Homo sapiens: one gene and its partners. The protein of the gene in region 1 purifies or fractionates together with the protein of each later gene. This does not show direct contact. Each region holds a gene or a part of one and is shown on either strand. Other genes may lie near its edges. The genes, in order: RETREG1, RTN1 and RTN3.

Region 1 (3,657 bases):
ATCAGTCCATAGCAGCCACTAACTTAATTTCCCTTTATATGGACCTGCTTATTCTAGGCATTTCATATAAATGGAATTACACAGTATGTGGCATTTTGTGTCTGGCTTCTTAGCATGTTTTCAAGGTTCATCCATGTTGTAGCAAGTATCAGGACTTCATTTTTATAGCCAAGTAATATTCTACTGTGTAGATATGGTGGTAACATGTTATTTACCCATTCAGTATTTGACAGAAGTTCAATAGTTTTGTATGCACTCATAAAAATAAATGTCTCCAGAAATATTAGCATACCATCAGAAGTGTCTGTCTGTGGAGTGTATCCTTCTGAAAGGTTGAAGGTCCCATTATCAGTCCAGGATACCTCTGAGACGTCTGTGTCAGACACAGATAACTCTTTGGCAGCAACCGTGAGGCTAATCTGTGTTAATATAAATAAATACCAGCGGCACATTTTAAACTGCTGAAGGGAATATTTTGAAAAATCCATATGAACCCCCAAAATGACAGAGTAATAAAAACCAAATGGATATTTTTATTTTGAAATCATTCAGTCATCTTACAGAAATATGAGGAGTTTATTAGGAAGATCATTCAGCTTTGTATGCATACATGCATTTACAGTCAAACCACACAGGAACAAATTGAAAACTAAACAAAAAATACCTTAGGACAAAGAGCTGAAAAGTCTAATTCACTGTCATCTTTGTGACTTTTTTCTTTGTCTGCTTCTGTTGAGGAAAAAATTTGGAAGCTTTCAGTTTCCTAGCCAACTCAGACATAGTGCATTTATTTCATTATGTATTCTTACCCCACATTTCTCATATTCTCCAAATACAAATATATATTTCTCATATTCTTAACTACAAATATAATTAAATGTTTGCACATAACAAGCTTCACATATTTGCAAAGGAAATGATCCACATTAGTGGCTCTCTTAATATTGTCCCTGAAACAGCAAAAGCATCCTCCCTGGGAACTTTTTAGAAATGCAGATTCTCAGGCCCTACCCTAGACCTACTGAATCAGAAACTCTGGGCTGGGGCCTAGCAATCTGTCCTTTAATAAGCCCTCCACGTGACTCCGATACATTCTAGTTTGAGAACCTATAAGGTCATAAGCCAAGTTAAAAAGTAAGAGATGATTATATTGGCTTTTCCTGTATTTTCTTTTTCTTTGTGATAGTCCAACCCAAAATAAAACTAAGTAAATCATAAGTAGCACAATAAAGAGTGTTGAAGCCTTTTCTTTCTCCCCTGACACTGTGGATTAAAAAGTCAATTTATTTAATTGTATATTTGAGAAAAGAAGGAAAGCCCAAATAGGAAAAGGATATATATAACTTTGAGGGAGATTAGCTTCTATAATAATATTTAGTAAAAAGCTAAAAGTATCCTCAAATGTATTAAAGAATTTCCTAAAAATAGCTCGCTAATGTCTCATTTCATGCATAGAATCTAAAATATAAACTTTACCTACCAGATCTCTCACGTTTCTTCTGATTAATATATTCTCCAATTCCAAAATCCAGTTTCAGCAGAACTGACTTAATTTTGCTGTAAATTTTTTGTCCAATATCATTACATTTAAACAATGGACACAAAAATGCACACAGTACTGAAAGAAGAAAGAGAGCAGAGGTAAAATGCCTTTCCTTTCAAAAGGCTACGTACATTTCAGTATTTCACAAAATACTACATTTCTTTACTGAAAAACTTAAGTTTTTTTAAGGGAAATGCCATTGTGAAATAAGTTTATAATTTCTATTCTTTTTCTGTAAGGTAAACATTTTCTGCCACCACCCACAAACACACACATGCATCCCACACTTACACAAGTTTATAATTTCTATTCTTTTTCTGTAAGGTAAACATTTTCTACCACCACCCACAAACACACACATGCATACCCACACTTACACAATGCTCACAGTCATTGTTTCCAGGTGCAGTTAGATCAACTCCCTCCTTTCAATCCTTTTATTCTCAAAATTTATAGAAAAATTACATGCCTTCCAGACAACAGTCCTGGTTTAACTGTGTTTATTCAATGCCATTTCACCATGGGAAAGTTATTAGCCTCTCATCAATAATATTAGGATAGTAACATTATTTCTTGGGGTTGTTGTGAAGCATAAATGAAATCAATGCAAACCATCTGAATAATGCCTTGCCCAAATTATTCTTTCATTCCCCAGTCCTCTTCTCCTTTACCTCCTAAACAATGTCATCATGAGGCTGATGTTATATATGACTTCTTTTGGGGAGAATGGATTTGAGCTCTGACCATTTGCCATTTGCATTATGCATTAAGAATACAAAAAGAAGCAAAGATTGCCACACTCTAAGTATTGTATTCCCAATATTTATTTCTTTGTTCGTTTTAGGAAGTGTCCCGTATTATATTTTAAAATAAGAGCTACAAACTCAAATGTCTCTAGAGGCCAAGAAATTGTATGTAAATTTTAAAGTCCATTGTAAGAAAAATTGGAAAATATGGGGGTATGTTAAGTGGAGAGTGCCTGCCCCATCGAAAGGTAGCAGTGCCAGATCATAGTTTTCAGGTGAAGAAAATCCATACTTTTTAATAACATTTTTGGGTGGTCATTGATGTATAATAAAATACATGTATTTAAAGTGTACAATTTGATAAATTTTGACATATGCATACAACTAAGAAGCCATCACCATAATCAAGATAGTGAACATGTCTACCAGTAGACATGAAGTTTTCTCATGGTTTTATTCAACCTTCCTTCCAGTCTCCTGCCTCTTCTCCCTGCCCCCACCCACCTCATCCCCAGGCAACCACTGACCTGCTTTGTCACTAAAGATTGTTTGAATTTTCTGGAATAATATATAAATGGAATCACACTTTTTCATCTGGTTTTGTCTACTCAGTCTAATTATTTTGAGATTTATCTTTAGTGTTGTATGTATCCATTTTTAGTGCTAAGTAGTAATCCATTATATGGATATACCACAGTTTGCTTACCCATTCCTCCAATTGATGGATGTATGGATTATATTCTGCTTTTGGCTACTACATATAAATCTGTTATGAACATTTATGTCTTTGTACTTTCATTTCTTTTGGGTAAGTACCTAGTTGTGGGATAGCTTTGTCATGTAGTAGTTTTTAAGAAACTGCCAAACTGTTATCCAAAGTGATTTTAACATTCTACCTACCCCGCAACAGTATGTGAGAATTCCACTTGCTCTGCATCCCTCCTAATACTTGATGTGGTCAGTATTTTTAATTTTAGCCATTCTGGTAGGGATGCAATGGTATTTCATTGTGGTTTTAATTATTTTTTTGAGCCAAAGAACACGCACGAAGGCAAAGGTGTTGGTGTGTTTTTGGGAGGTGGGGCATACAGCTTTATGTATACTTTTACTGACAAAATTTAACATAAAATTATTCACTTATAATTCTGCCTTTTGCAGCTATTCTTCCAATTTTAAAATAGAGACATGTCTCTAGGAAAATGGAGAAACTTTGTACAGCAGGAGATTAAAGAATAATCAACTTGTATTATAGTTAAGAACTCATCCCCCCTCTTCAAACTACAGGTCTGTTGACCGTAAGGTGATACCATATGCATCACAACACTTAGCCATATGTTCTACTATACTTACACAGTAGATAGCTGAGTA
Region 2 (3,657 bases), on another chromosome or scaffold:
CCCTGTGTCACCAACCCCCTTTCAGTTCTCATATAATACAGACTCAGGCCCTGTGCATTTGCTATTCCCCCACACCTGAGGTCCCTCCTAGCTTCTCTCTGAACTGTGGGCTCCTTCTGCTCATTCAGATTTCAGTTCATGTGTCATCTCCTCAGAGGGGCAGTCCTTGGACCCCTCACACCCAACCCTCTATCACTCTTTCTAGTGCTCACACTATAAAATTACACTGTTTATTTATGGGTTTGTTTTTTATTGCCTGTTTCCTCTGACTAGCAGGTAAGCTGTGCAAGGGCAGGGACCTTGTACATCTTATTTACTACAAGGTCTCAGTGGCCAGTGCATGTCTGATGTATAGAAGTCACTCTAAATATTTTTTGAACAAAAGAATGAATTTTAAAAATGGGTAGGAGAATCATAGATCCCATCAATGCAAGGAAATAGCAATGGTAGTTTTCAAATTTAAGTTGATTTACTTTTAATTGCTCATTTCTTCTTGAGGGAAACTGGGGTGTTTTAAGGATGACTTCCTGATTATTGTCCTTTTTGAGGCTAATAGCTCACATAACACCCAGGACCATCATAATATCCCTCTTGGTGTTTGTGTCAGAAACAACATGGTGCTCCTGGTCAATGTCTGGGGCATCAGGGCATTTATTATGTTTTCCTAAATTGCTTCACTTTTTTCATGACTGATCTTGGCTTAAAAGAGACTTCCAGTATTTCAGCTATAACAATTCTCACCTCTCCACCTCAGTGTATATTATGTAGTAAAAATAGGTAAGTATGTTGGAGAACGTTACAAAATGGAATAATCTATTGGAATTGGGAGAAATATAAATATATTAGACACCTTGCTTAAACATCAGCATCTGTGGCTAAAGCTAACCCAAATTAGAATTTCTCTTCAGTTATTCTCCAGATTTGATGATTTCCTTATTTATTAAACAATGATAAACTGGACCCTTTTTTGCTTAACATGCTTTCTTTTTCCTCAGTTTCTATGTAGAATTATGTGCAGTTCTCAATTTTTGTTTTCAATCTGTTGTCACTGGAAATGGCAGAGTGACCCAAGACTCAACAGATGTAATAAAGTCCATATCCTCTACTGTCTATGGGCACAGTGTCACATGGTGCCAGGGGTCATAAGAAGATGGGAAGGGGGTCAGAAACCTCGCAGGATAAAAAGGGCAGGGAGAAAGGCTTCAATGAGAAGCTGATTCTTCCTGTTAATTTCATTCTTATCTGTTGTCATATGACTCTGGTATTTTGATGTGGGATGTATATGGAGAGAGGAGCTGAACATAGGAGAGAATGTGTAATGGGCCATTTTCTCTTTCCTGAATATGCCTTGCTTAGAATGTTTATTTGATTGCAGCTGCAGAGACAATCATTGTCCTAACCCCATACTGTCAAGTGGGCAACCCAACATCGTAAAACTCCAATATCATGTGAGCCAGATCTGCCTTTGTTTTCTCTTGAACCTTCTCCAGAACCCAATTGGGCCATGGCTACTTAAAAATGGAAATTCCCTAAAAATTAATGGACCCTTTGTCAAGTCTTTGCAAACTGTAATTTTTACATGAAGCATGTGCCGTGTAAGTAGACCTATACTTGCTAGGGCATTTCACTATTCCTGAGGACTGGCTGAAGTTCTTGTGGACTGACTACTGGACAACCCGGGAGCTCTGTAAAACACAGCTTGACTATATTAACTTACATCTTCAGAACACCAAGTATCTTTACGGCAGGAAATAATAAAAGAGTTTTACTATGCATTGCCAGAAAGAGTACAAGGAAGCTTGGAAACTCGGATATGTTCTGACCTCATGTTTTAGGCAGGGGCAAGACGTATCTAATCCACCTGGAGCCTTGGTTTTCTGATTTGTCATTACTACCCAAATCTCAATTTACATCTTAAGTGAAGTTCACTGGGCCCTCACAACTCCATGTCCATGCAGCTCCTCAGACTGGAAGGGCACCCTTCCCTTCACCTCTTTGTTTCCCCTGTTCCTCTGAGAGTCACCTGTGGTCCCAGTTCACCTGGGGAGCTGCTGGACTCCAGGGCTCGTCAGCACCGTACAATTCCCTTTCTCAGGACACCAAGCACACTGGATTGGGACTGCTTCCTTGGTCGTCTGGTCCCCTGGAGGCAGGGACTGGTTTTTGTTTGTTTTTTATTTTTCGTTAATTCCCCATCAGTCGTGCCTCATAGAGTACCCAACCAAAAGAAAGTATGTAGAAAGTGTTTGTTGCGTGAATGAGTAAATTTGAAAATCAGGGACCTGGCGCAGTGAATCTTTAAGACCCTTGGAGTTCTATGGTTGAATGAGTCTGAAGGAACTTTGGGGAGAAGGAATTAATGCTAAAATCTATAGGGAAAGAAGATAGGAGGAACTTTCATTAATTCTGTTCTATTCCAACACTTGGATTTGTACTATACCATCAGGGTTTAGAGCAATCGCTCCTCCTCTACAGGCTTTGCTTCCATTTTCAGAGTTTACTAGAAGCTCTTTCACCTGAGGTGCATACCAAAGCTCTTTGGGATATGGTAGAATGCCAGTCACCAGGGGCAGGGGAAGGTTTGAGGACCTCTCACTGTCCTCTTCATCTCGATGCCTCATGGACATTTGAGAGAGGTGGAGATGCAAAGGCTGGAGAGAAGAGAGTGGCACAGGGTGGGGTGAGGAGTTTCCTGCTGCCTCTCTGGCCTTTAGCCAGGGATATAAGAGGCTCCCTTTGTGTTTGACAGAATACGCATGAGTGCTGTTTAGTATCCTGCCTTCAGTCACAGAAAGAGAATGTTCAAGTTAAAAAAGACCATAGCCTAATGAAGTCTAAACTTTAAAAATTTTAATGAAGTACATCTTTTGGTTTCAAAAATAAAATTATATGCAGAACTTCAATAAACTAGAGATATAAAATGACAGTGTTGAGATTGAAAGGGGAAGGGAGGAGTTTGCTTTGCTTAGGTTTCCTCTTCCTGTCTGTGCCATCCCTAAAAGATCCAGAAGTCCACCTTTTCCTTCCCTTTAAGTGTACAGACTTAGAGCTAGGGACAGGAATGTTAAATGCCCCGGCCAAGGTGCTTCAGGCAGTCTACAGAGAACAGCCAGTGTGCTCTCCTCATAATGTCTCCAAGAGACCTGTGCTATAGTTTGAATGTCCCTTCCAAAACTCATGTTTAATCTTAATACCCAATGTGGCAGTATTGAGAGGTGGAGCCTTTGAGAGGCTATGGACTACGAAATATTGAACGATGAAGGCTCTGCCTTCATGAGTGGATTATCCCACTCATGGATTAATGGATTAAAGAGTTAACGGATTAATGGATTATCATGGAAATGTGACTTGTGGCTTTATATGAAGAATAAGAGAGACTTGAGCATAGCATGTTAGCATGTTCAGCCCCCTCACCATATTATACCCTGTACCCACTTGGGACCCTTCAGAGAGTCCCCACTAGCAAGCCAGAAAGCTTTTACCAGATGCGCCCCTTTGACCTGGGACTTCCCAGCTTTCAGAACTGTTAAGAAATAAATTTTGTTTCTTATACATTACCCTGTGTCAGGTATTCTGTTATAAGCAACACAAAACAGACTAAGACAACCCAGATCCTAGCCGAAAGCTAACTGAGAAGCAGGCAGTACTGAATTCTCT
Region 3 (3,657 bases), on another chromosome or scaffold:
TTCGTTAGTAAAGTTATGCATATCATTCACGCATCTGGACACCTCTTCCAGTGCTGCATTTGTGTGTGAAAACTGCCTACTGAGCAATGCAGACATTGGGTAACGTCCTGCCTCTTTATTTCTCAGTGGAAAAAGCTTGTCATTAGTCTCTGAAATGTCTTCGGATGATTCTTTATCAGTGTGCACAGACCAGCTACCAAAATCATCTGTGCTCTCCTTATATGAGTCTTTAAATTCTTTGTCAAATGCTGCTTTGTCAATAATTACTTCAAATGGTGATTCAGGGGAATCCTTTTCAATAACATCATCTCCTGAAACTTTGGATGGAGACAAAGAATATGTATAAATGCCTTCTACCTTAGAGTACTCAGTAGGTGGTTTCTGGGCTGTCAGCAAAGTGAATCTGTCATCAGCATCCAATGCAGTTTTAGCCTCCCTACTTGATACCCCATTTGGGTTCTTGGTCTCTTTATCTATTTGCTCTTCCACTTGACCAATTTTCTTTGAGAGAAAAGCAGGATGCTCTGGGAAACTGGCTGGAATAGAAGGACGGTCACAATGAACTCCTGCTGCAAGAGAAACTGAAGAGTCTGATACGTTGTTGCTGGTCCCCTGAGGCTTTTCCATCTTTTTCATATCTAGAAGATCCAAGTGGTCTTTTCCTTCTTTGGCTAAAATAGGCTGGCTCCCTAACACATGGCTTTTTTCTCCATGTAGTATTGTAAGGCCAGTGTTATGTATTTCAGAAGATGAAAGAAAGGAAGAAGTCATAATTTCTGAAGATGGCTCATCAGAGCAAAGAGAGCTCAATCCCTCTATGATCAGAATTTCAAAGAAAAAAATTGTTTACCAGGTACAATTACACATTAGCTAGCCAAGCCAAGCAGCATGCTTTTTATTTTTTAAATTACATAAATATATATATACACACACAGGATGTATATATACACACATAAATATGTAACAAAACGATCAAGTTATCCTACAGGACATGCATAAAACTGCCAACAGTGAAACAGAAAAGCCATATCATGCCACAAACTGCAAATGATAAAAAATTTTCATGACAAATACTTTTGGTCTACTTTTCCATTGTACAGAGAAAGCATAAAGAAGGGCGGTAAGATTGAGAAATCTTGGGAGGTTTTTTATTCTTTGATAGAGCTAATCAACAAAAGCAAAATAATTTATACAAAACAAATAACCTGATACTATAAAGGGTTGATAGACTTCAATCTGTAAGCTGAACAATTCAGAGCACAGACTGCCTCTATAAATCTGTTAGTCTCACAATCTGAAAAGGAAAAAAACTAGTGGCCAGACTTTTTTGATTTTTAGGAGATGCAATGGGCCCTTCCTGAATCTGAAAAATGAGACTAGAATTATTCTATTCTATCCACAGGGAGAATCTGTCCCATGTACAAATAAATAGCTGTGATGTTCTAAACTAAAGGGTACTGAAAAAGGTGGACCCCCTCCAAAATCTTTTTTTTTTTTTTTTGATACGGAGTCTTTTTCTTGTTGCCCAGGCTGAAGTGCAATGGCGCAATCTCAGCTCACTGCAACCTCCACCTCCCAGGTTCAAGCCATTCTCCTGCCTCAGCCTCTCAAGTAGCTGGGATTACAGGCAGGCACCATCAAGCCCAGCTAATTTTTGTATTTTTAGAAGAGATGGGGTTTCACCATGTTGGCCAGGCTGGTCTCTTAACTCCTGACCTCAAGTGATCCACCCGCCTTGGCCTCCCAAAGTGCTGGGATTACAGGTGTGAGCCGCTACGCCTGGCCCCTCCAAAATCTCTTGTACTAACTTGTCATTTAAATCAATATTGTACTGTGCAAATTGATTTCTTTGGTTAAGACAGAGTTAACTTGGCTGGGTGCAGTGGCTCACCTGAGGTCAGGAGTTCGAGACCAGCCTGACCAAAATGGTGAAACCTCATCTCTACTAAAGATACAAAAAAATTAGCCGGGCGTGGTGGCAGGCACCTGTAATTCCAGCTACTCGGGAGGCTGAGGCAGGAGAATCCTTTGAACCCAGGAGGCAGACATTGATGGCAGTGAGCTGAGGTCACGCCATCGCACCCCAGCCTGGGCAACAAGAGTGAAACTGTCTCAAAAAAAAAAAAAAAAAAAAAAAAAAAGACAGAGTTAACTCCAGAATTACTTTTAAAATAGAAAATATCCTTCTCAAAGTAATACGTTAAGTCTTATCAGTTAATACCATAGTAGCCATCAATCTACCACACTGTTTTCTAACTTCCCACTCTAACAAATTTTTACTGGGGAAAAGGATCAAAACAAATATCCCAAGGGCTGGTGCTTTCTTACTTCATTTATTTGTTTGTTTGTATTTGAGAGAGGGTCTCCCTCTGTCCTCCAGGCTGGAGTGCCAGTGGTACAATTGTGGCTCACTGCAGCCTTGACCTCCTGGCCTCAAGCTATCCTCCCACCTCAGCCTCCCAAGTAGCTGGGACCACAGGCACATGCCACCACACCTGGCTAATTTTTAAACTTTCTTTTCTTTTTTTTTTTTTTTTGTTTTTTTTTTGAGACGGAGTCTTGCTCTGTCGCCCAGGCTGGAGTGTAGTGGCGCGATCTCTGCTCACTGCAAGCTCCGCCTCCCGGGTTCGCGCCATTCTCCTGCCTCAGTCTCCCAAGCAGTTGGGACTACAGGCACCCGCCGCCACGCCTGGCTAATTTTATTTTTGTATTTTTAGTAGAGACGGGGTTTCACCGTGTTAGCCAGAATGGTCTCGATCTCCTGACCCCGTGATCCGCCTGCCTCGGCCTCCCAAAGAGCTGGGAATACACGCATGAGCCACCGCGCCTGGCCTGATTTTTAAACTTTCTACAGACCTGGTGCCTCACTACATTGCCAGGTTGGTCTCAAACTACTGGGCTCAAGCAACCTGCCCACCTCGGCCTCCTGAAGTGCTGGGATTATAGGCATGAGCCACCACGCCCACCCTGGGCGCTGTCTTTCTTGCATACTGTTGTATCTTTGGAGCTGGGACAAAGTGGGTCTTAAATAAATAGCCCCAAATAAGTGAATCAAAGATTCAGCTTGGTCAGCTGAGACCTAAGTAGGCTCAGGACAGCAATGCCTTGAGCATGAATGAGTAACTGGGAAAATGTGACAGAGAAGTTCTTTTGGGATTACCTTTATTCAGCTTATGTTCCCTTTTTCATGTAAACATCCAAATACCAGATAAAAGCAAAATTATGACTTCATTCAAAATTATTTTATTAAAGACAAAAATATTTTACAATAAATAAAATTCCAGTATTATGAAAATGTTTTGAAATGCCATATAAAGTTCCCCTACTTCAACACATCACTGAAACTTGATGTAATAAGAGCTGAGCTTTAGAAATAGTATAACTGTAATCTGGTTATTAGAATAAAAAGTCTTTGTACATTCAAGGAAAACTGTAAAAGCTTGGTGGCAAAGCTATATTACCAAAACAAAACACTTGAAGTAAACTGTAATTCATATGTAGTTCTAATTTAGTAAACATGGTTTGCATCTACCATTATACAGTATGGATATTCAGCATGACTAGATTAGGGCATAACAGAAATGAAGCCCAGTATTGTAGGTTAAAAGGTTCAAAAATCTGAAGTGTGAAGTACTACAGATTACATTTAAATCAGAA

Evidence for each region.
Region 2: the proteins of RETREG1 (region 1) and RTN1 purify together in Homo sapiens (affinity purification with mass spectrometry, with the first as the bait; one study listed by BioGRID). This does not show direct contact.
Region 3: the proteins of RETREG1 (region 1) and RTN3 purify together in Homo sapiens (affinity purification with mass spectrometry, with the first as the bait; one study listed by BioGRID). This does not show direct contact.

The regions. Positions count from the first base shown.
Region 1 is NC_000005.10:16,477,370-16,481,026, forward strand, and holds part of RETREG1 (reticulophagy regulator 1), read right to left. Parts: coding exon 3,640-3,657; intron 1,619-3,639; coding exon 1,481-1,618; intron 730-1,480; coding exon 665-729; intron 420-664; coding exon 293-419; intron 1-292. UniProt on the Homo sapiens protein: Endoplasmic reticulum (ER)-anchored autophagy regulator which mediates ER delivery into lysosomes through sequestration into autophagosomes.
Region 2 is NC_000014.9:59,741,731-59,745,387, forward strand, and holds part of RTN1 (reticulon-1), read right to left. Parts: intron 1-3,657. UniProt on the Homo sapiens protein: Inhibits amyloid precursor protein processing, probably by blocking BACE1 activity.
Region 3 is NC_000011.10:63,715,860-63,719,516, reverse strand, and holds part of RTN3 (reticulon-3), read right to left. Parts: intron 816-3,657; coding exon 1-815. UniProt on the Homo sapiens protein: May be involved in membrane trafficking in the early secretory pathway. Inhibits BACE1 activity and amyloid precursor protein processing. May induce caspase-8 cascade and apoptosis.